7 linked regions of the Homo sapiens genome follow. The protein of the gene in region 6 purifies or fractionates together with the protein of the main gene of each other region. This does not show direct contact. Each region holds a gene or a part of one and is shown on either strand. Other genes may lie near its edges. The genes, in order: SMARCC2, WDHD1, KIFC1, KLHL7, RNGTT, NUP50 and ARID2.

Evidence for each region.
Region 1: the proteins of NUP50 (region 6) and SMARCC2 purify together in Homo sapiens (affinity purification with mass spectrometry; 3 studies listed by BioGRID and IntAct, with this or other methods). This does not show direct contact.
Region 2: the proteins of NUP50 (region 6) and WDHD1 purify together in Homo sapiens (affinity purification with mass spectrometry; 3 studies listed by BioGRID and IntAct, with this or other methods). This does not show direct contact.
Region 3: the proteins of NUP50 (region 6) and KIFC1 purify together in Homo sapiens (affinity purification with mass spectrometry; 4 studies listed by BioGRID and IntAct, with this or other methods). This does not show direct contact.
Region 4: the proteins of NUP50 (region 6) and KLHL7 purify together in Homo sapiens (affinity purification with mass spectrometry; 4 studies listed by BioGRID and IntAct, with this or other methods). This does not show direct contact.
Region 5: the proteins of NUP50 (region 6) and RNGTT purify together in Homo sapiens (affinity purification with mass spectrometry; 3 studies listed by BioGRID and IntAct, with this or other methods). This does not show direct contact.
Region 7: the proteins of NUP50 (region 6) and ARID2 purify together in Homo sapiens (affinity purification with mass spectrometry; 4 studies listed by BioGRID and IntAct, with this or other methods). This does not show direct contact.

What each region holds. Positions count from the first base shown.
Region 1 is NC_000012.12:56,165,484-56,168,983, reverse strand, and holds part of SMARCC2 (SWI/SNF complex subunit SMARCC2), read left to right. Parts: intron 1-789; coding exon 790-924; intron 925-3,284; coding exon 3,285-3,500. UniProt on the Homo sapiens protein: Involved in transcriptional activation and repression of select genes by chromatin remodeling (alteration of DNA-nucleosome topology).
Region 2 is NC_000014.9:55,017,100-55,020,599, forward strand, and holds part of WDHD1 (WD repeat and HMG-box DNA-binding protein 1), read right to left. Parts: intron 1-3,500. UniProt on the Homo sapiens protein: Core replisome component that acts as a replication initiation factor. Binds directly to the CMG complex and functions as a hub to recruit additional proteins to the replication fork.
Region 3 is NC_000006.12:33,405,323-33,408,822, reverse strand, and holds part of KIFC1 (kinesin-like protein KIFC1), read right to left. Parts: coding exon 3,192-3,500; intron 2,628-3,191; coding exon 2,337-2,627; intron 2,232-2,336; coding exon 2,158-2,231; intron 2,024-2,157; coding exon 1,948-2,023; intron 1-1,947. UniProt on the Homo sapiens protein: Minus end-directed microtubule-dependent motor required for bipolar spindle formation. May contribute to movement of early endocytic vesicles. Regulates cilium formation and structure.
Region 4 is NC_000007.14:23,126,285-23,129,784, forward strand, and holds part of KLHL7 (kelch-like protein 7), read left to right. Parts: intron 1-3,500. UniProt on the Homo sapiens protein: Substrate-specific adapter of a BCR (BTB-CUL3-RBX1) E3 ubiquitin ligase complex. The BCR(KLHL7) complex acts by mediating ubiquitination and subsequent degradation of substrate proteins. Probably mediates 'Lys-48'-linked ubiquitination.
Region 5 is NC_000006.12:88,614,119-88,617,618, forward strand, and holds part of RNGTT (mRNA-capping enzyme), read right to left. Parts: intron 278-3,500; coding exon 154-277; intron 1-153.
Region 6 is NC_000022.11:45,173,925-45,177,424, reverse strand, and holds part of NUP50 (nuclear pore complex protein Nup50), read right to left. Parts: intron 1,532-3,500; coding exon 1,345-1,531; intron 1,184-1,344; exon of another isoform or gene 1,043-1,183; intron 1-1,042. UniProt on the Homo sapiens protein: Component of the nuclear pore complex that has a direct role in nuclear protein import. Actively displaces NLSs from importin-alpha, and facilitates disassembly of the importin-alpha:beta-cargo complex and importin recycling.
Region 7 is NC_000012.12:45,900,706-45,904,205, reverse strand, and holds part of ARID2 (AT-rich interactive domain-containing protein 2), read right to left. Parts: intron 1-3,500. UniProt on the Homo sapiens protein: Involved in transcriptional activation and repression of select genes by chromatin remodeling (alteration of DNA-nucleosome topology). Required for the stability of the SWI/SNF chromatin remodeling complex SWI/SNF-B (PBAF).

The sequences.
Region 1 (3,500 bases), on a different chromosome or scaffold from region 6:
TTTTGAGATGGAGTCTCACTCTGTTGCCCAGGCTGGAGTGCAGTGGCACAATCTCGGCTCACTGCAACCTCCACCTCCCAGGTTCAAGCGATTCTCCCACCTCAGCCTCCCAAGTAGCTAGGATTACAGGCACGTGCCAGCATGCCCGGTTAATTTTTGTATTTTTAGCAGAGATGGGGTTTCACCCTGTTGCCCCAGGCTGGTCTCAAACTCCTGGACTCAAGTGATCTGCTCGCCTTAGCCTCCCAAAGCGCTGGGATTACAGGCATGAGCCATCACACCTGGCCAAAATAATTTAATTTTTTAAAAAGGCTGGGCGCAGTGGCTCACGCGTGTAATCCCAGGACTTTGGGAGGCTGAGGCAGGTGGATCACCTGAGGTTGTAAGTTTGAGACCAGCCTGGCCAACATGGTGAAACCCCATCTCTACTAAAAACACAGAAATTAGCCGGCGTGGTGGCGCATGTCTGTAATCCCAGGTACTGGGGAGGCAAAGGCACGAGAATTGCTTGAACCCAGGAGGTAGAGGTTACAGTGAGCTGAGATCATGCCACTGTACTCCAGCCTGGGCAACAGAGTGAGACTGTCCCAAAAAAAAAAAAAGAAAAAAGAAAAAAGACACGGTGGCTCACGCCTATAATCCCAGCACAAAAAAGTCAAGCCCTTTCACCATGGGTTGTGACCACAGCAAATTTGTTCTTATACCTGCCAGCATCCACCCTACCTTTCTTCTGTATTGTCTTCAGTTGGGTCCTCCCACTGATGTGCTGTCTCGCCCCTCCTTCCCTAGCACTTGGCTGCTGTTGAGGAAAGGAAGATCAAATCTTTGGTGGCCCTGCTGGTGGAGACCCAGATGAAAAAGTTGGAGATCAAACTTCGGCACTTTGAGGAGCTGGAGACTATCATGGACCGGGAGCGAGAAGCAGTGAGTAGCAGGAGCCCTGGAACCCTGCTGCGCTGTGCCTCAGTTTAAAATCGGAGGGGCGTGTGTGTGTGTGTGTGTGTGTGTGTGTGTGTGTGTGTGTGTGTGTGTTTCAGTGAAAGAGAGATAAGCAACAGTGGGGAAAGCCTGAGTGTGTGTGTGTGTGTGTGTGTTTCAGTGAAAGATAAGCAACAGTGGGGAAAGCCTGAGACAGACAGGGCTTCAAAGCAGAGCAGGGCAGGAACAGGGCAGGAGTAGGGCAGCCAGTTAGAGACAGTTAAGTGGTCTCACAAGTGAAGTCTGGGGACTGAAGTCCCACAGAAGGTCAGCTCCATGAGGCAGGGACTCTAGTTGGTTGTTTTGATTGCTGCATCTCCAGGTCCTTGAACAGTGCTTGGCCCATAGTAGACTCAAATAGTGATTGAGTGAATGGGCGTAACGGATGATGAGAGAGAGGGTAAGAGCCTCAGATCCAGGAGGTGAACTTGGAAAGGGAATGGGACCGACACAGTGTTGAACCATTTTGTCTTTGGAGGACATAAAAAGAAATAGACAATAGGGACTGGGCACAGTGGCCCACATTTGTAATCCTAGTACTTTGGTACACTGAGGCAGATGGATCACTTGAGCCCAGGAGTTCAAGACCAGCCTGGGTAACATAGTGAGATCTCTGTCTCAACAATTTATTTTATTTATTTATTTATTTATTTATTTGAGACAGAGTTTCGCTCTTGTTGCCCAGGCTGGAGTGCAATGGTGTGATCTTCGCTCACCACAACGTCCGCCTCCTGGGAAGCGATTCTCCTGCCTCAGCCTCCCCAGTAGCTGGGATTACAGGCATGTGCCACCATGCCCAGCTAATTTTGTATTTTTAGTAGAGATGGGGTTTCTCTATGTTGGTCAGGCTGGTCTCGAACTCCCGATCTCAGGTGATCAGCCCATCTCTGCTTCCCAAAGTGCCGGATTACAGGTGAGTCATCACGCTTTTTTTTTTTTTTTTGAGATGGAGTCTTACTCTTTCGCCCAGGCTGGAGTGCAGTGGTGCAATCACGGCTCACTGCAACCTCCGCCTCCTGGGTTCAAGCGATTCTCCTGCCTCACCTCCCGAGTAGCTGGGATTACAGGCACATGCCACCATGACCAGCTAATTTTTGTATTTTTAGTAGAGACAGGGTTTCACCATGTTGGCCAGGCTGGTCTCAAACTCCTGACCTCAGGTGATCCGCCCACCTCAGCCTCCCAAAGCGCTGGGATTTCAGGCATGAGCCACCGTGCCCAGCCCAAACATTTTTTAAAAATAAACAAATTAGCCGGGCGTGGTGGTGCGAGCCTGTGGTCCCAGCTACTCAGGAAGCTGAGGTGGGAGGATCGTTTGAGCCCAGGAGGTCAAGGCTGCACTGAGCCATGTTTGCCCCATTGCATTCCAGCCTGGGTGACAGAGTGAGACCCTATCTCAAAAAAAAAAAAAAGAAGAAAAAGAAATAGAAGATAGGGACCTCAGAGAACTTAAGGTTTAATGGGAGACATCAAATGAATATACAATATGGAGACATCAGAAACAGTTAAGAAGGTTTAAAGTATCTGACAAATTCACATTAAGAGATTGCACATCAGCCGGGCGCGGTGGCTCACACCTGTAATTCCAGCACTTTGGGAGGCTGAGGCAGGTGGATCACGAGATCAAGGAGATCGAGACCATCCTGGCTAACATGGTGAAACCCCGTCTCTACTAAAGAATAAAAAAATACAAAAAATTAGCCCGGCATGCTGGCACACACCTGTAATCCCAGCTACTCGGGAGGCTGAGGCAGGAGAATTGCTTGAACCGGGGAGGCGGAGGTTGCAGTGAGCTGAGATCACGCTACTGTACTCCAGCCTGGGTGACAGAGTGAGACTCAGTCTCAAAAAAATAAAGAGATTGCACATCAAGTTTCTAAGTCCTGAGATCATAGAATAAAGCTAAAGCTCAGAGGCAAATGAATTGATCTGGGATAGCTTCCTAAGAACAGTGACTTTTTAGTGAATTTTGAAGTAAGAAAAGAACTTGAATTGACAAAAGGAACTGGAAGCATTTTCCAAATCAAGGTAATGGCAAGTTCAAAGCTTTGTAGCTGAAGTGAGCTTGGGCCAGGTTAAAGTCATTGCAATAAGAAACCATGTGGGCACTCAGGAGACATAAAGGTCATGGGAATTTGCACGAAGTCGGGTGGGGAGGACAGAGGGAGCACAAGCACAAGATGTAGATTTTGGGAACCTTCTGATTGAGAGGCAGGCTCTTTCAGAAGAAGACAAAGCAGGGGTTGAGGCATTTGCCTTTGGGATCTGCTGAAAATTGGATAACAATACTCAATTGGCACTGGCAGCTGGAGTATCAGAGGCAGCAGCTCCTGGCCGACAGACAAGCCTTCCACATGGAGCAGCTGAAGTATGCGGAGATGAGGGCTCGGCAGCAGCACTTCCAACAGATGCACCAACAGCAGCAGCAGCCACCACCAGCCCTGCCCCCAGGCTCCCAGCCTATCCCCCCAACAGGGGCTGCTGGGCCACCCGCAGTCCATGGCTTGGCTGTGGCTCCAGCC
Region 2 (3,500 bases), on a different chromosome or scaffold from region 6:
ATATCTGACATCAGTGGGGATTCTATCTAAATTTATTTGAAAAGTTTAACACTAATGATAAAATTCTTAATTTTTACAGTAATACAAATACAAACTTTGGCAGGAAATAGCGTTCAGCAGTCCTGCGAAAGAAGTGCTTTTAGAGTAGTCTAAACATTCTTCTAAATGGTTTTATCCTTTATTGTATCAAATAACTACATATTAATTTTATTGTTTTCTACAGTGCTGTAGGAAAAATCAATATTCTTTTTTTTTCTTTTTGAAACAGGGCCTTGCTCTGTTGCTCAGGCTGGAGTGCAGTGGCACCATCTCGGGTCACTGCAACCTCCACTTCCCAGGTTCAAGTGATTCTCCTGCCTCAGCCTCCCAAGTAGCTAGTATTACAGGCACGCACCACCCACACCTGGCTAAATTTCGTATTTTCATAGAGATGGGGTTTCACCATGTTGGCCAGCCTGGTCTCGAACTCTTGACCTCAAGTGATACACCTACCTCAGCTTTCCAAAGTGCTGGAATTACAGACGTAAGCCACTGCACCCAGCCAGAAAAATCAATGTTCTTACTATATTAGGAAATCTGTGAAACACAAAAGTACTTGAATTTGGAATTACAATTCATGATTCTATCCAAATGAGCTGCAAGATAACACACCAACAAAAAAGAAGCCATACTTGTCAAATTTTCAGATTTTATTTATATCTAGAATTGCTGAACAACAGAATTTTTGAAAAAAACATGTTTTGTTTCTGTTTTTGTTGCCCAGGCTGGAGTGCAGTGGCCCTACCACGGCTCACTGCAGGCTTGACCTGGGCTCAAGCAATCCTCCCACCTCAGCTGCACACAAATCAATGTGATATACAGAAAAACTACTAGACCTCCTGGCCTCAAGCAATCCTCCCACCTCAGCAGCGCACAAACCGATGTTAATTAAATACACAAAAAATACTAGCATTGCAGGACATACTTTCTCCCTCTGCTTGGAGTGATTGGGTTTTTAAAATCTTTAAGCCTTTGAAGAGCGAGCGACTCTGTAAAACAACCTAAGTGTCCTACTGTAATAATGGTATTATTATTATTAGAAACAAGTCCTCTAAATCTTAGTTGCATTTAGTTGAAAACAGACATCTTTAATCAAAGCATTAAACTTAAGCTTTTGAAGCTTTTAGTGAAATGCAATTCATGAAAACAAAACTTATGCACAGGAAGACACTGAAATTTATCCCTACAAAAGCAAATAAGAATTGAACAAATTGTACATGAAAAGCTGAAATGGTGAATGATTTCATTTTAAAATTCTGTAACTGTACTTTGGAATATCTTGACTTGTGGGAAGAATATTTTGATAGAACTCCTATTTTTAATTGTATTAATTTATGTTCTGTGCCAGAATGAAATAAAAGAGTAGGCTTAAAATCTGTGAAACATCCAAAAGAATCATAGACAACTTGATGAATTTTGTCCTTAAAAACAGTGAAGACCCTATTATTGAAGAAGTGTACCCTGAATGGAGATAAAAAGACAGAACCTATAAAAATACTGAGGCTGAAGTATTTACCCATTTCAATTAAAACAAATTCTTAAAAATTATGACTCTCCCAGCTAGTAGAATTTGCTCTGAGCCTGCCAAGTACCTTAGAACCTAACATTTTTCTCATTAAAAAATATTATAGTCTAGGCCAGGCATGGTGGCTCACGCCTGTAATCCCAGCACTTTGGGAGGCGAGACCAGCCTGACCAACAATGGAGAAACCCCATCTCTACTAAAAATACTAAATTATCCAGGCATGGTGGCGCATGCCTGTAATCCCAGCTACTTGGGAGGCTGAGGCAGGAGAATTGCTTGAACCTGGGAGGCAGAGGTTACAGTGGGCCGAGATGGTGCCATTGCACTCCAGCCTGGGCAACAAGAGTGAAACTCTGACTCAAACAAATAAAAAAAAGAAAAGAATTGAAGATTTAACTTCAAATTTATTCAGCATAAAATGCAACTCTAAACAAGGCTACAGCTAATTTTTTATGAGAAAAATTAAAATAACACTGTATTAAAAATATATTTTTCAGAAAAATATCAGCAATACCATGGGACAGACAGGCTAAGAAACTGATTAAAGCACATAAATATGTACCAGAAATGATTATCTTACATATGTTAACATTTAGATCATATGTTTAATGTTTGGATAATCAATGTAAATAAATATTTTTATTTTTTTCTTAGGTAAACTGGGTAAGTTGTTAATTTACATATTCCTAGAAAATTATACCTTTGTTTCAAATTTTCAAAACTATTGGCATAAGGGTGTCAATGTATTCACGTATTTTGAAGCCTATATTGTACCTTTTTTATCTCTAATATTATTTTATTTGTGCCTTCTCTTTTTTGATTCATGACTCTTGCTAAAGCATTGTTCTACTAGGTTCTACCCCCAATAAACCAGATTTTAGTTATAAGATGTATGGGATTTACTTTAAAATAATAAAGAGTAAGGCGGGGTGTGGTGGCTCATGCCTGTAACCCCAGCACTTTGGGAGGCCAAGGCTGGTGGATCAATTGAGGTCAGGAGTTCAAGACTAGCCTGGCCAACATGACGAAACCTTGTCTCTACTAAAAATACAAAAATTAGCCAGCTGTTGCGGAGGGCATCTGTGATCCCAGCTACTTGGGAGGCTGAGGAGAGAGAATCACTTGAACCCAGGAGGCAGAGGTTACAGTGAGCCGAGATCGTGCCACTGCACTCCAGCCTGGGCGACAGAGCTAGACTCCATCTCAACAAAAAAGAAATCCGCTATCAGTGTCTGGGCATGAAGATTAATTATATCAAGACTTCATCAGCTTTATGACATAACCTCAAGGAGTCAATGATTACCAACGCATTTCTTACTACCTCAACTCTATCCTCAGAGAGCAACATTCCTTCCCTAATCTGACCACCTCTTCTTGACTCTTAATCATTGAGTCTCATGAGGTTCATGGTGAGGCACAAGCAAAATCTCTATATACTCAGCTTTCTTTCTGGTCATTCTTCTGGGGTCACTGCTTCCTCTTCAGCCCTCTTAAGTAGTGACTGATTACTTTCTATACCCCACTGGTACTAGAGACAAAATCAAAACCACGTAGTGTCAACCTCACTAATTCAAATTCCTCCCCTTCCATTATCTTGAATCCACTTCAAGGTTTTCATTCTTACCATTCCATAAAACTTGCCAATGGCCTCCACATTGCTAAATCTAATGGTGAATTCTCAGTCTTCAACCTGACTCACCAGGAGCATTTGACAGAGTCTATTATTTCCTGTTCCTCAAACACTTCATTTGGCTTCTAAACATCCTTCTTGTCTTTCAGTTCTCTACTTTTCTAGCTACTCTTTCTTAGTCTCCTTAGCTGGATCCTCTTTAACTTGATCTCTAAATATTTTGGAGTATCCTTGAACCTCTTTTCTTACCTATATTTACTCCTTCCCTAGGTGACTTCATCCAAGTTCACAGTAATAAATATTATG
Region 3 (3,500 bases), on a different chromosome or scaffold from region 6:
GGGTGGCTCACGCCTATAATCCCAACACTTTTGGTGGCTACAATGAGCTATGATTGAGCCACTGAATTCCAGTCTGGGCAACAGAGCAAGTCCCTGTCTCAAAAAAAATAAAAATAAAAATAACCCTCAGATAAACATTCATTGGTCACCTTTGGAAGCTGCTAGGATATCAACTCAATACTGAAAATCAATAAATAATTCAGCATTTATCTTGTTTTTCCTGTATGAATTGAATTTCAGAGAAACCAAGTAGATGGCAAGGCAAATGTCTTCATAAAAGAATCGTGACTAACCAATGCAGAACAACTAAGATTAGAAAAATCCCCATTTAGAAACCCCTTAATGAAATAAAGATCCAGGTATGGTCACTGCTGGATAAAATCACTAGGTGAAAAAGTCAATAAGGAGCTTGTAAATGGATGGGTCAGGTTGACAACACCCAAATATGATAAATAAGTGAAAGTATGGGGGAAAGAGGAAGCAACCAGCCAAAATCCAGAATAGTATATTCTATAGGACAAATGACCTTCAACAAACGACATAATAGTGGCAGTGTGGGATAGGGTTGTGGAACTTGAGACATTTCAACCAAGTGGGTGGCCCTTGCCTGGATCCTGATTTGAACAAACCTATTATGTATAAAAGACACTTCTGAGACAGTTGGGTGAAATTTAACATAAACTGGGTATTAGAGGATATTAAAGTTCATGTTGTTGGATGTTACATTGGTATAACATTAATAAAAAGTTAGAAAAAACATCACCACCCTCTAAAATTGAACTTGCAAGATAGTGAGGGAAACCCTCATCAAAGTAGAATACCAGATCAGGGTGCAGGTGCTGGCTACTCCACAGCAACAATCAGTGCTGACTGGGAGGAGGCCCAAGCGCACAGCAGGACAGACCTGATCAGACCTCAAATAAAGCCAGAGCCCATCAAAGGGCTATACGCGCAGGAGGAGGGTGTACCAGAGAAAAAAATTACTGTGGAGGCAGACAGTAAGGAAACTTTCTGACTTGCTTAACACTAGTGGAAGGAGATTCTAGTGGAAGGAATTCTCATTAGTGAGAATTCATATAGCCACTGGCTGACCCTCATGAGGTTTGGAGTCTGAATTCACACTATTTGGAATAGTCTGAAAAACCTCTAAGTCTTTGATCCAGTAATCCCATTTCAAGGACTATTTCCCTAGTTAGATGTAACTGAAAAATACAAAATGATGTATGTACAAAGTTAGTCAACGTGGCCTTGTTTGTGACTAAAAAAGTGTGGAAACAATCCAAGTGTCCAGTAGAGGGAACTGGTGGATAAATTTTGGTGCAGCTACATAGTGGAGTCTAGGCAGACCTAAAAATAATGATCTCTGTATGCTGATAGGGAGGAATCTTAGGGATTTTTTGTGTGTTGGTTTTTTGAGACAAGGTCTTACTCTGTCACCCAGGCTGAAGTGCAGTGGTAGGATCACGGCTCACTGCAGCCTCCACCTCCCAGGTTCAGGTGATCCTCCCACCTCAGCCTCCTGAGTAGCTGGAACTACAGGTGTGAGCCATTACACCCAGCTAATTTTCCTATTTTTTGTAGAGACAGGGTCTCACTATGTTGCCCAGACTGATTTTAAACTCCTGGGCTCAAGCAATCCTCCTGCCTTGGCCTCCCGAAGTGTTCGGATTATAGGCATGAGCTACTACGCCCAACCAGTTTAGACCTTTTAGTCACCTTTTCTTTTTTTTTTAATCAGCTTTCTCAGGTTAAATTAATCACCCGTTTTTTAAAAAACTTAACTCAAAAGCTAATAATTAAAAATGGAACCAGGTGAGCAGTGCCTCAGATACCTGCAAAACCTTTCTGCACAAATGTGCTCCCTGCCCTAGAAGACAAAAGGGATTGGAATGGAGAAGCCTACAACCACCCACGGGTCCTGACAAGGCTGACGGGTGGTAATCGCACCTTGGAGGCAAAGCGTAGAGAGTTGAGGGACTCGGAGACGTTCTCTTCCAGTGGAGAAATGTTCACAAACATGAGCCTATGAAAAGACAATGTGCCCAACCCCAGCATTAGGGGCCAGCAGAGCCTGGACAGGTCTCCACTGTTCCCCTTTCTACCCCTCACCCCAACACAGTTCCTACCTGACCCCTTCCATCTGTCCCTTTCACTCACATCTTAGCACTACCACCCAGAGAGTTCTGCAGCAGGTAGGTCAGTTTGCTGTTCCGGTAAGGCACGTGGGACTCCTAGATGATTGAGGTGGGGACAGATGTTTAGGAATAGGCAGGGTTCTGCACAGCCAACCCCAACTGTCCCCCAGGTCCCGTATCTCACCCCACTCCCATTCCCACCTTGTTGCTCAGGGCCATGATAACCAGCCCCAGCGTGGACAGGCTGCTGTTAATGGCCTGTGTTTCCCGAAGGCGTTCCCGCTCCCCGGGGCCGAGGGCTAAGCCGGGGTCAAGTCGCTCACTCCCGGCCAGGTCCACAAGACTGAGGGGGGCCCCACACTGCAGGCCTCGGCTGGAGTGCTCCCCAGAAATCTGTAGCTGGAATACACTGTGGCTGCGTGATGACCGTTCATTCTGGGCTGTGCGGGCCACAGCCCGATTCTGGCGGGCCAGATGAAGCAGGGCGTCCACCTGGGGATGGGAGCAGAAGGGGCAAAAAGGCAGGCAGAAGTCAGTACATAGTAATATGTATGGAAATGAATAAGAGCCCACCCCCACCCTCTTGAAGCTTTCTAGCCTGTCAAGAAACAAAATAAGATGCACAGTATGTCTGAAAATGGTAAGGAATACATAGAATAGGGAGTGTATAAAGGCGGGGTGGGGAACACAAGTTTTGACAGGATAGCCAAGATCTCCAGGAAAGAGCATCCAGGCAAAGGCCCTGAGATGGGGAGCACGACTAGCTGGTTGAGGAACAGCCAGGAGGCCAGCATGGCTAGGATGAGCTGAGCAAGAAGATGAGACATGAGATGTAGTGACCCTCCTCGTTTTGGCAGATGCATCACTCCCTCGCCACTCCCAGGTTAAGGCAGATCTACCGACAGCCCACAGGCCAAAACCGGATGTGGTAACCCAGCCTGATAACTTGCACTTCATCCTTCAATTCTCTCTTGCTCCTTTCTCCCTCTACCTCCATCTCGTGGCACCCTGCCCACTCCTCCCCATTTCCCAGTTCCAGTGCCCATGGGTCCTCACTTCTTTCTCACAGGAGACAGGGACATATCGAGCATTGGTGACAGTGAGCTCCTCACTCCCTGGCCCTGCACGGCGAATCTCACACTCGCCCCCTTGACCCTTCCGGGTTCCAGTGGCCAGCAGGTCCCGGACAGTCTCATTGTAGATCTCTACGTAGCTTGCTACAAAGCTGTAGGTCCAGCCCTGACCACTCAGCTCCTGAGCCACAGAGAAGAGGTGCCGCAGGGCCCGAGGGATCAGCCCCTCCAACTGGGGGTCTCCCCCAGGCCCACCCTCCATTGTGAAGGTCTTGCCACTGCCTGTCTGGCC
Region 4 (3,500 bases), on a different chromosome or scaffold from region 6:
TCAAACATATGAATTGTTTGTTTCTGGAATTTTCCATTTAATGTTTTTGAACCACAGAAAGCAAAACCATGGATAAGGGGGACTACTCTAATTCCATTTTCCTACGCTTGTTGTGATTCAGAGGCTTTAAAGAAAGGGAAGAGCGCTGGTATAGGAGTGCTAGGAAAGCAGGGAGGAAAGAAAAGTAGAATGAAGGAAAGTATAAAGAGGGGTCAAAGAATCCAGTCAGTGCTAAGATATTTGACCCAGGAGAAAAGAAGAGGGGTGCTAAATGACAAGAACGCAAAGACTGATGCAAAGGGCTCCTGAAGATGCTTCAGAATTTTGGCAAGTCTCCTCTGTCCCTACTTTTTGTAGGCTTTCCTCCTTCCGGACACTTTAGTACTCCTTCCTGCATACCCCCTCACTGTGAGCACAGAGAGAGAGATCTTGGAAGGCAGGTGGAAAGCAGCAGAATAAATTTCAGGAGGAAGTAAAAGTCAGGTGAAGGGAATAAAAATGAGACTTAGCCTAATATCCAGAAAAGGGATTGGACTAGATGGAGCAGGAAGAGAAATAGCTATGCAGGTGAATATACTGAAGGAATTTTTAAAAGGTAGCCATGGGTCTACATATTGAAAAGATCCCTATATTAGAAAATAAAAGGCCAATCTCTAATCCTACCTGTACAGCAGAGACACTCTGGCATGAGTCCTTCCATCTCTTTGGGCCGTAATTGGGGCTTCACTCATCAATAAGATTTATATTCCTAAGACTTAAGGTTACTTCCATTATATAAATAATTATCTTCAGACAATACTATAAACGGGGAATTACCTTAATTAAGTTTTTGGAAATGATGGCTTATGTATGTTTCTATAACTCCCTAGCACTCTAAATTTCCTCCTGGGGTGATTCAACTACAAAGAAGAATGGCTGAAATATAGGTAGGTAGTAGATGTGGTGGTGCAAAGCATAGTGTGGAACCTGGAGTGAGTCTGTGCTAAGCACATCTTAGGCTTTGGGCTTCTGAGGAGACCATTTAGTAGTTTTGCCTCTGGATACCTTCTATCCTTACTGTTCACAAAGCTGGGAGGAAGGACAGCCCCGCCACCTAGAAAGTAGCCTGATTCCTGGCTAAGCTTCTGGCAAAGACAGTGGCCCAGCCAGGTGAGCCAAGTGCCATAGCCCAATAACTAGGGAAACTGCTTCTGCTTGCTTTCTGTTTAGCCTTGAGCATGGCTCTCAATGTCAGCTGATTGGATAATTCCTAGCTTAGTTTTCACCACCTGTCAATTCTCTGCTGCCCAGAAAGAGTCCATCAATCGAGCTTCCACAAATGCTAAAGGAACCGGTGGCAGCTGATGGAATCGGGCAAAGATCATGTAAAAAATTAAACCCAGTACCAGCCTGGCCAACATGGTGAAACCCCTCTCTACCAAAAAAATACAAAAATTAGCCGAGTGCAGGCGTGGTGGCACACACCTGTAGTCCCAGCTACTCCGGAGGCCGAGGCGGGAAAATCGTTTGAACCGGGAGGCGGAGGTTGCAGTGAGCCGAGATCTTGCCACTGCACTCCAGCTGCATGAGACAGTGAGACCCTGTCTTGGAAAAAACAAAAAAAAACAGTAGTTTGAGGAACAGAAAACCAAGCTAAACAGCCAAAATGAATGGCTCCTGTAAGGCAAATTTAATGTGAGAAATAGAAGGGAACAAATTAACCGGGCATGGTTGTGCGCGCCTGCAGTCCAAGCTACTCCAGAGGCTGAAGCGGGAAAATCGCTTGAACCGGGAGGCGGAGGTTGCAGTGAGTGAGCCGAGATTGCGCCACTGCACTCTAGGCTGGACTACAGAGTGAGACTCTGTCTCAAGAAAAAAAAAAAAAGCAAACTTAAAAATACGATGTGTAAAAATATGGTTTTACAGTTTTTTGACATTCAATTGAATTGAAAAATAGAATCGATACTCTTAAAACTCAAACCGAAGAAGATCAAACAGGAAGTTGCCTCATGATACGAAACAAAAATGCAAAGGAAGCCACTAGTGAGAAGATAAAAGAAAGGGAAGGAAGATACAGGAACTGCAGTGTGAGGTAGGAGTTCCAGAAGGAACAGATGGAGAAAGCAATAATCAAATAAGACTACGACTTCTTTGGGTTTAAAAAAAAAAAAAAAAAAAAAAAAAAAAAGAACTTTAACTTTCGGACTAAGTTATACTGAGTATTAAACCTGATCAATGAACTAAGATATTCCTCCCTCAGATATATTCTAGTGATATTTTTCACCTTCAAAGATCAAAAGAGAGCTTACATTTGGGGTGATAAAAATATTCTGGAACTAGATAGTGGTGACTGTGGTACAACATTGCAAATGTAGTAAATGTCACGGTAAGTTTTATGTGTATTTTACCACATTAAAAAAAAAAGTGACCCTACAGCTAGCAGGTCCCAAAAGAAACTCCCACACCCACTAGCAGTCACTCCCCATTCTTCCTCTGGCAGGCCTGGCAACCATGAATCTGCTTTCTGCCCCTATAAATTTGCCTATTCTGAGTGTTTCATATAAATTGAATCATACCAAAGGTGGCCCTTTGTGTCTGGCCTCTTTGAGCACAGTGTTTTTAGGGTTCATCCATATTGTAGCATTTATCAGTACTTCATTTCTTCTTATGGCTGAATAATATTCCATTGCATGGATATACCAAAATGTGTTTATCCATTTACTGATGGGTGAATGTTTGAATTGTTTCCAAGCCAGCACATTTTATAGAGGAAAAGGAAAGCACTGGTTAACTTGAACAAAAAAAAATAAAAGTGCTTTCTACCATCTGGGACCTTGGCTGTGGATCAGGTGAGTGCACAGGTCAGACGAAAGCCCTACAGTTGGCACAGCCTGGGCCTCTGTCCATGGTTGCAGGGGCATCTCCGCAGCTACTGCATGCAGTGATCATGGGGGCCCCAGACCTGGGCTTAGGCAAGGGCACTGTGTTGTTGTACATCACCAAACACTTCAAGCTGAGGCACCTCTCCAGCAGGGACTGCTCCAGGACAACATGCTACAGGGCACATAAATTGGTATGTTAGCCAAGGCTTTTCTTGACCAAGGGAAACTCATCCCAAATGATGTTACGACTCGGCTGGCCCTTCATGAACTGAAAAATCTCACCTAATATAGCTGGTTTTCCAAGGACACTGCCATAGGCAGAAGCCCTAGATGAGCTTATCAGATAGACACAATGATTAACTTGTATGTGCCCTTGGAGGTCATTTAAACAACACTTCACTGCTTGCTGTTCATCTAGCTAGTGGCCGAGTCGACTACATTGAATTCAACCGTCCCCAAACTGTGGGTATTGCTGATCTGACTGGGAAGCCTCTCATTCGGCCTGAGAATAATAGACCAGAGACACAGTTATCAAGAGACTGAAGACTTATGGAGCCAGTCCCAGAACTTTACCAGAAAAAAACAGGGATGTTGGAAACACTCTCCAGAGCAGAAACCAACAAGATTTAACGTCATGTT
Region 5 (3,500 bases), on a different chromosome or scaffold from region 6:
GAATACAGACTTGACGTATCTTTCCCATCAAACAAGGATGAAGTCCAAATGACTATGCCCCATTAAGCAAAACAACAAAGGCAGCACACTTTGGGTCTAACACCTTAATTTTTGTTTTAAATATAATAAGCACTGGTAAGTTGTCATACTCACCCATGGCAGTGTTGTAGGCATTAGGAAAACTTTTGTCTGTTCTCTGTCTCATGAAGACCCAGCTGTTGTTCTCAAATTTGCATTCTATAATTTTGTTGTCATACTGTTTCAGCTCTTTTGTCACCTGTTTTGAAAGAGAATTGAGGAAAATATTTAAATAACTTGAAAGGCTTTTTGCTTCTACTATGTGACAGGCACATTAGGAAATGATAAAAATACCTCAGTAACTCTTCATGCAGAGAGCTCTTTGTCATCTGAAGTATCTAATCAAGCTTAAGGTATGGTGTGCACTCCCTTGTACACATGCTCACTTATCCGACATTTTATAAATAATTGTGAAAATGGCTGTCAATATATAGCAATTAAAAGAAGCTAGGCAGAAACCAGCCATGCTGGGCCAAATGCAAATATGTTACCATGGGGACCAATACCTTCAATATTGTCTGTGTCTCTACGGCTTTCAGAAATTGAGTATACTGCCTAGGTTTCATCAACTTTCAGAAAGGTCTAACCATCTAAATTCCTATGTTAAAATCTAAGAAATGCCGTGTACTAGTTAAATGAAAAAGTTACATATCAATAGTGAATACTAGGATCAAATTCAGGCAATGTACATCCTAAATATTTTGCTTTCCAAGCAGTGACAATTAACCAACAATCTAATCTTCAGGAAACTTAGCCTTTCCATCCCCAAACTAGTACAAATTTACAGATGAAGCTATTTGTGACATTAGTTGATGGGTTTTTTGGCTTCTTCACCTCAGATGACTGAATATGGATACTCTATCAAAGCTAACAAGTATCCATGGTAACTACGAACCTTTTAAAAGATATTTCACTGGGCTGTGAGAATGGTTTTCATAAATAGGAACCTAAGCTTATCTTTGTAGTTTTCAAATCAAATGCCAGTCATGGTAATATTTTAATTCTGTCCTCATCTTTCATGGCTAACAACTTTTCCTCACAATATGGTAGACTGCAATCATTTAACTTCATTAGCATTATCTGAAACATTCTCATTTTTCTACCCACATATTCACTACCACCTAGGAATATGACGAGAAGTAAGTTTTTAAAAGATGCTTTCAATTCGCAGATTAGGCAGCACATGTCTTCATAAAAACTTTCAAACTATATTCCTTTCCCTTTACATTTGATTGTACCATCTGCATTTTCAACAAATCCAACAGGTGCAATACACTCAGTGGTTTTGGAACTAGACATGCCCAAAAAAGTGATATTCCAAGTAGCAAACTTGCCAAATTTATCCTCAAATATTCATTATTTTAGTCTCAATTCTCTTGCCTTGCTTTCTAGGGACCCATTCTTTTATTTTGGAAACACTGTGTATATGCAAGTATTGGACAACTCATTCAGTTAGGTAAACACAGTTTTGCTATACCACATGTAAGGTCTAACAGAAATAAGTTTCTAAACCTTTCAGTGTCTATTTCCTAATTTCTAAAATGGGGAACAAGTTCCTAATTTACTGGGTCACTGAAAGAATAATAATTGAAAGTGCCTGGGACATAGAACAATCAGTAAAATTGTTAACCAAATATAAAATTAGGCAATGAAACATTGCTTTTTAAAATCTGTGGTAAAAAAACATTGAATTTTCCATCTTAACCATTTTTAAGTGTACAGTTCAGCAATGCTAAGTGTATGTCTAGAACTTTTCCATCTTGCAACACTGAAATGCTATACTCCCTAAACACTAATTGCCCCCCTTCCCCTCTACCCAGACCTTGATAACTGCCTTTCTACTTTCTGTTTCTATGATTTTGACTACTTTAGATACTTCATACGAGTATTAACAGAATCACACACTATTTGTCCTTTTGTGATTGGCTTGTTTCACTTAGCATAATGTCCTTGAGGTTTATTCATGTTGTAGCATGTGACAGAAATTCTTTCTTTTTAAAGGTAGAATAATATTCCACTGTATGTATACACCACATTTTCTTTAGCCATTCATCTGTCAATGGACACGTGGGCTGCTTCTACCTCTTGGCTATTTTGGATAATGTTGCAAAGAACGTGGGTGTGAAAATATCTCTTTGAGATCCGGTTTTAAATTATTTTGGCTATACACCCAGAGGCAGTATCACTGGATCATAATTTTATTTTTAATCTTTTGAGGACCCCTTTGTTTTCCATAATGGCTGCATCAATTTACATTCTCACTAACAGTATGCAAGGGTTCCAATGTCACATCCTTAACACCTGTTAGTTTTTGTTCCTTTTTTTTTTAAAAAAAATTGACGCCCATTGTTTACTGTGCTCTAATTTAAACTTTTTGTTCTTTCATAGTGGCCATCCTGATGGTGTCAGGTGCTATCTCATTGTGGTCTTGATTTGCATTTCACTAATGACTGAGAATCTTTCCATGTGCTTATTGGCTGTATACTTTCTTCAGTATACTTTCTTCAGTATACAAGAAACTTTGTCAATTTTTTTAATTGGGTTGTTTATTGTTGTTGAGATGTAGGAGTTCCTTATATATTCTGGACATTAACTTCTTATCAGATGTACAATTTGCAATTATTTTCTCCCATTCTGTAGGCTGCCTTTTCACACTGCTGATTGATTCCTTTGATGTACATAAGTTTTTAACTTTGATGTAGTCCTCTTTGTCTATTTTTTATTTTGTTGCCTATGATTTTGGTGTTGCACACAAGAAATCATTGCCTAATCCAATGTCCTAAAGATTTGTCCTGGCCGGGCACAGTGGCTCACGCCTGTAATCCCAGCACTTTGGGAGGCCGAGGTGGGCAGATCATGAGGTCAGATCGAGACCATCCTGGCTAACACAGTGAAACCCTGTCTCTACTAAAAATACAAAAAGATTAGCCGGGCGTGGTGGCAGGTGCCTGCAGTCCCAGCTACTCGGGAGGCTGAGGCAGGATAATGGCATGAACCTGGGAGGCGGAGCTTGCAGTGAGCTGAGATCGTGCCACTGCACTCCAGCCTGGGCAAGAGAGGGAGACTCCATCTCCAAAAAAAAGATTTCTCCTATGTTATCTTTTACAAGTTTAATAGTTTAAGGTCTTATGTTTTGGTCTTTATTTTTGTGTTAATTTTTGTATATGGTGTAAGGTAGGGGTTCAACTTCATTCTTTTGCATGTGGATATTGCTTTCCCAACACTGTTAGTTGAAGATATTGATTGTCCCTTCCCATTGTGTAGTATTGGCGCCCTTGTGGCAAATCATTTGGCCATATATGCAATGATTTATTTCTGGGCTCTCTATTCTGCTCCATTGATTTGTATCTCTATCTTTATGCCAGTAATTAAGTATGCCATCTAAATTAGATGCTTTGAAGTATGTTTTGAAATCAGGAAGT
Region 6 (3,500 bases):
CAAATCGCTTGAGCTCAGGAGTTTGAGACCAGCCTGGGCAACATGGCAAAACCCCATCTCTACAAAAAATGTAAAAATTAGCTGAGTGTGGTGGTGTGTACCTATAATCCCAGCTACTGGGGAGGCTGATGGGGGAGGATCACTTGAGCTCGGGAGGTTGTGGCTGCAGTGAGCCAAGACCACACCAATACACTCCAGCCTAGGTGACAGAGCGAGACCCTGTCTCAATGCAGTACTCTGGGGATGAGAAACCAGTGGATACGAACACTCACTTTTCCTATCTAAGAGTTATGCTGGTCTGACTATGGGACTTGAACATCCAAGGGGGTGCTGAAACCAATCCCCAGGATACTAGGGGATGGCTGTAGTTAAAAATCTTAACAGAGGCCGGGCACAGTGGCTCGCGGATGTAATCCCAGCACTTTGGGAGGCCAAGGCAGGTGGATCACAAGGTCAAGAGATCAAGACCATCCTGGCCAACATGGTGAAACCCCGTCTCTACTAAAATTACAAAAATTAGCTGGGCATGGTGGTGCATGCCTGTAGTCCCAGCTACTCGGGAGGCTGAGGCAGGAGAATCGCTTAAACCCAGAGGCGGAGGCTGCAGTGAGCAGAGGTCGCGCCACTGCATTCCATCCTGGTGACAGAGCAAGACTCCAACTTAGAAAAAACAACAACAACAACAAAACTTAACAGAGAACACTTATTTTACATCACACTAAACATTCTGCCAAATTAAAATCAAACAGTATATACTCTCAGAATAATCAGCTAAATACAACCCAACCAGTCAGGATCATTTCCAAGCTTTTAACCCGTGATCCTATTCTCTGTTGCTAATTCCAAGAGTTTTTGACTGACTCCCTCAAAACAGGATCAGGCAATCAACACATCCCATACCCAAACAAACCTAGCGTGGGAGGCACCCTGGCCACGGAGAACCGCATCTGAGTTCCCAGTAGCCAGTTTGGTGCGAGGCACACAGAAAGCCCTTGGCACACAAAGGGTCTACATAGCATTTTCTTTTCTCTCTCGACTCTAGGTCAATTCTGAGGGCCACTCTCCTTTCAAAATTGAACATTCTGAGGCCTAGAGGCCAGGGTCACACAACTGGTAGCCAGCAGAGCTGAGAACAAAGCTGAGATGTTTTGGATCAAAAGCCTGTGCTCTACCCACTTACTCTGTAAGTAACCGACACCTCCCTAAGTTCCATCTCTTTCATTATCACCCTGGTTTTGCTCACACAGTTCCAAGACACAGGGTAGCTATAAGAAAAACATCTTTGTAAAGCTATTTTCCATAGATGATACTTACACAGGCGGCTGGGGGATGGGAGCTACTTACCAAAGGCTACCTTGGGATCTGCCGCTGCCTTTGCACTGGCGAAGGGAGGGGCACTGGTTATGTTGTTTCCATTCGACAGTCCTTCCAAAGGCTTCCCTCCAGCGCCACTACCAAATCCAGAAAAGCGTCCTCCTCCAGAAGGTACCACCAAACCTTTAAAACCTTTAAAGGCTCCTCCAGTGTCAGACTGAAGTATGAAGGAGGAGCACACATTAGGTAAGTGTACTTTCTATTACCAAAAAGCAAGTGAGTGACAACAGCATCTTGGCTAAACAGCACCTAGACTCCACATGCAGTCAGCGTTATAAGGCAAACTGCTGGCACAAGCAGAAATAAGAAATGAGATGGGAAGATTGTATTCATAAGAACAGCTTTGCAACCCAAAGCTGCTTTCCTGAAACAGGCAGGAAGGACATTTAAAAAATATATTATGTGTATTTTTAGGACATAAAAGGTAAGAAAGACTAATGCAATAAACCTATGTACCCACCACCCAGCCTCAGAATTACTGAAGCGGCTCAATAAAACTAAATCCCAAATGAAAGATACTTCATGTACTACTCAGTCAAAGACCATTTACTGCCTAAAGAAATGATAAAAACATCAAGGTAGGTTAACTAAAAATATCCATTTGCCTAATTTCTTAACATCTGTGGCTTGCAACTGCTTTCAGCCTACAAAAACTTAGATGATCGAGTCTCAAATCTACATGTTCCTGTTAGCTGAACAACCCGGGACAACTTCTTACTCTCCTTTTCCTCACTGCTTCCTTAAACTCGATTGTTTTAACAAGGTTTTTCTAGTAGGCCTTTTCCCTTTGTGCTAGCCTGCTCACATCTCTAACCTAAGATGCTCTGGAAATGTGTGGCATTCCGTATGAATTCTAAAGCTCCTCTCTGCCCCTGGAACTTTTGGAGAAAGGTTCCTCGGTTTATAGTGCTTTGCTAAATAAACTCACCACAATTTTTAGAAGCCCTTTTTTGTTGTTGTTCGAAGAAGTGATTACATTATAGGAAGTGATCTGCTTCTTAGACCGAACATCTAAGAGACAGTTCACAAATCTTAAGTTTCCACATGAGTGAATTATAACCATGATTTCACCAGAAAAAAAAAAAAATTAAACTGGAACCCCTTCATTTACTAAATGGGCCAGTCAGCCTAAATATTACTGCATGTTTTTCCAAAACCAAAGTTTCAATCTCATCTACAGAATTTCAGATGTTTACTGACCACTGATATATTTAAGGCAATAAAATGAGGCAAAGAATGGAAAATTGTAACTTGTATGAGTTTTAATGCACATAATAAACAGAGCTTAGATTCTGTTGCTCTACATTTGATTTTTCATCATTTAAAATTCCAAACCCGCCACACTGATAGCTGTCATTTTAAAACAATGATTCATGGACAAACTATAAAGCCATTAAGTGGCTTTTCAGAGCCTCCGATTTTGCACAAAGTTAAAAGTCACTTGTAGGGATTTTAGAAATTGCTGATAGTAAATTGGCTCTAGAATCACAACAAAAATTCAAGAACCACAAGTTAAACAAAAAAAAGATATTCAGAAAAATGAGAGTAAAAGTTGATTAAGATATTCATCAAGGGGCCAGGTGTGGTGGCTCATGCCTATAATACCAGTACTTTGGGAGGCCGAGACATTCAGGTCACTTGAGCCCAGGAGTTTGAAACCACCCTGGGCAACAGAGTGAGACCCCCTGTCTACAAAAATGCAAAAATTAGCTGGGTGTGGTGGCGCATGCCTGTAGTCCCAGCTACTCAGGAGGCTGAGGCAGGAGGATTGCTTCAGCTCAGGAGGCGGCGGTTGCAGAGAGTCAAGATTGTGCCACCGCACTCCACCCTGGGCGACAAAGACCCTGTCTCAAAAAAAAAAAAAAAAGGGAAAATACCCATGTGGGCTCCTCCATGGGCACTGACACAGCCCCACATCCCTCAATTTCCCTCATTGGTTTTACTGTTCCCCATGGCACTTACAGAGGAAAAATTAATACTATGTATTTGTTCTCTTCCATAGGGCAAGATGATTTTGGTCTTTTTTACTCACCAATACATCTCCAGTGCTTAGCAGATCTACTGAATCCACTATTTAGGAAAAGCCGCATTTCAGCATTCTGGTGGGTGACATGACATTTAATTGT
Region 7 (3,500 bases), on a different chromosome or scaffold from region 6:
ACATCTAGCTTAACTATATCCTAAATGCCCCATTAGCCATAAAAGCTGTTTTCTAAAAACTTATCAATCTTAAATTTTCTACCCAAAAGATCACAATATTGATGTGGCTATCTATATAATGAGAGATTATAAAAGTGAGCATCATCTAGCTAAAAAAAAGGGATGCTGGGGGCTGAGAAAAATGGTAAAAATCACCCAGAACTGTGGGATGGATAAATGGACAGATATGTGATAAAGCAAGTATACTAAAATATTCATGGTAATAGCTAGGTGGCAGGTATAAAAAATTTCATTGCAAACATTTCAAATTTGCCTATGTGTGAAAAATTTTATATTAAATGTTAAAAAAAAATATCAGCCAGCATGAGATTACCCAGGAACCTTGGTGCCTTCATTAAAATAACTCCGAATAAAAGAAACTACAGGAGAAAAAAAGAGAAGATGAAGACACGTACATTTTGAATTAAAAAACACTGTAGAAAAGAAGTTTATGGAAAAGATGCAAAAATTCAAAATCAAAATTTAATGTAGGGACTGGAGTCACTTTTACTATAGTAAAGCAAAGGAAAAGAAATGAGCAAAAAATGAGACTGAAGAATAAACAGTTGGGCATCTTTTCATGTTTTTTGGGCCATTTCAGTTTTATGTAGTTTCCATATATACATACCATCACACACTCAAAAGAGTGGATAAAATTAAACATTTTAATTACAATACCAAATGTTGGCAAGTACATGGAGTAGCTGAGACTCTCATACATTTCTATAGAGTGTCAATTGATAAAATCATTTTGGAATTGGTTGGCATCATGTAGCAAACTTTTAACATCTTATGAGTCACCAATCCTTTGAAAACACTCAACAGAAATATGTTCCGTATATGGCCAAAAAACAGAATATGGTTTAGAATGTTTATAGCAGCATTACTCTTAATAGCCCCAAATTGGAAATAACCCATTTGCCCATCAAAAGCAGAGAAAAAAATACAATAATATGAATAAAATACTATCATGCAACAACATGAATCAATCTCAAAAATATAATGCTGAAAATAATATTGTATGATTTCACATATAGAAAGTTCAAAATCAGGCAAAATGAACCTCTGGTGTCACAGATCAGGATAGTGGTCCCTTATAGAGAGGAGGATGGAGTAAAGATTGGAGAGAACATGAAAGATTTCAACTGATATTGCTCTATTTCTTAACTTGGACAGATAGTTATATGAGTGGTTCAGTTTGTGATAATTCACTGAACTTTACACTTCTGTTTTATAAAATCTTTATGATTTTCTTTAAAATTTTATTTAACAACTTTTAAAATAAAGTATGAAATTTCTAAGATCTTTCTGGAAAAGAAAAATTAGTTGTACAAAAATTGATTTAAAAATTTACAAAACGCTTTGGGAGGCTGAGGCAGGCGGATCACGAGGTCAGGAGTTCGAGACCAGCCTGGCCAACATGGTGAAACCCCATCTCTACTAAAAATACAAAAAATTAGCTGGGCGTGGTGGCAGGAGCTACTTGGGAGGCTACTAATCCCAGCTACTCAGGAGGCTGAGGCAGGAGAATCGCTTGAACCCAGGAGGCAGAGGTTGCAGTGAGCCGAGACTGCACCACTACACTCCAGCCTGGGCAACAGAGCGAGACTCCATCTCAAAAAAAAAAAAAATTTACAAAATAAAAATAACTTTACAAAGTACAATCAGTTTTTCCCCACAATCAATGAATATTTTAACAAAGAAAGAAAAAAGACTTTAGTTTCAAAAAGTTAACAAAATCATATTTTTCAAAGTGATAGTCACATGTTAAAAAGTATTCTTTTATTTGAATATTGCATGGATAAAACTAGAAAGAATAAACTGAAATCACTAGGATGATTTTAAAGTAACTAATAATTTCCTTTTTGATATAAATGTTTAATTTTTTGAGGTTTTAAAAAATTAAGCACTCACTTTGTTTTGATATAAAACAAAACATGCCTAATTTGTTTTTTTATAAAATGATATTCTTTCAACTTCTAAATTCACATGTTAGTTTTTTGAGATGATTTAACAAAGAATAAATATTGGGTCACTCTAATATCCTTAACAGATAATAAAAATAATTTCTAAGCAACACTAGTAAAAACCATTTAGGATACAAATCAGCTTCTAAGAAAACAAGTTTAAACAAGTTTCTTTCCATTCCCTCCTCAAAACAGTACGAAGGGTAAAAGAAATTTATTTTTTGCTAGGCGTGGTGGCTCACGCCTGTAATCCCAGCACTTTGGGAGGCCGAGGCAGGTGGATCACTTGAGTTGAGGAGTTCAAGACCAGCTTGGGCAATATAGTGAGACACCCTCCCCCACCCCCCACCTTACAGAAAATTAAAAAATGAACTGTTGGGCATGGTGGCATATGCTTGTGGTCCCAATTACTCAGGAGGCTAAGGTGGGAGGATCACTTGAGCCCAGGAGGTTGGAGGCTGCAGTGAGCCATGATGGCCCCACTGAACTCCAGCCTGGGTAACAGAGCAAGACTCTTGTCTTGGGGGGCGGAGGATAAGCAAACCCCCAAATCCTCAGAAATTTGAGGAATTACAAGGAAAGAGTAACCATACACAGATTGGGAAAAAACTACAAAAGTAGAGGTGTTAATATCCTCAGAGAGATGAGAAGACACCACTAAGAACAGGATGTTATAAAATAGTAACAACTGGCAACCAATAACAAGCTCTTAAAAATTAAGGAAATTTCCGGCTGGGGGTGGTGGCTCATGCCTGTAATCCCAGCACTTTGGGAGGCTGAGGAGGGCGGATCACGAGGTCAGGAGATCGAGACCATCCTGGCTAACTAGGTGAAACCCTGTCTCTACTAAATATACAAAATATTAGCGGGGCATGGTGGTGGGCGCCTGTAGTCCCAGCTACTCCAGAGGATGAGGCAGGAGAATGGCGTGAACCTGGGAGGTGGAGCTTGCAGTGAGCCAAGATCGTGCCACTGCATTCCAGCCTGGGCAACGGAGCGAGACTCTGTCTCAAAAAAAAAAAAAAAAAAAAAAAAAAAAAAAAAATTAAGGAAATTTCCAAAAAATAGATTAAACAGAGAGAAAACAGAAAGCTAAAAGAGAAAAGAAAAAGAAACATACCAGAAAAGTTCCCATTACTGAAGGATATAAATCTCCAGATTGAAAGGACCCACCAAAATGAAATAATGACTTCAATGAAAACAACAACAAAACACCCACCGAAGACACATCATCATCAAGAAACCTCAGAATATTCAGAAATAAAGAGATCACAACAGTTTCTAGAGGGGGGAAAACAGATCACATACAAAGAAATGGGAACCAGAATGTCACTAGTCTTCTCAACAGCAAAGCTGGTGCTAGAATACACCAAAGCAATGCCCTCAGGTTTTTAAAGAAAAATGATTTTTCAATCTAGAATGTTATGTACAGCCAACAACTATCAAGAGTAAGGGTAGATTACAGACATTTTTAGGCATGTAGGGTCTTAAATG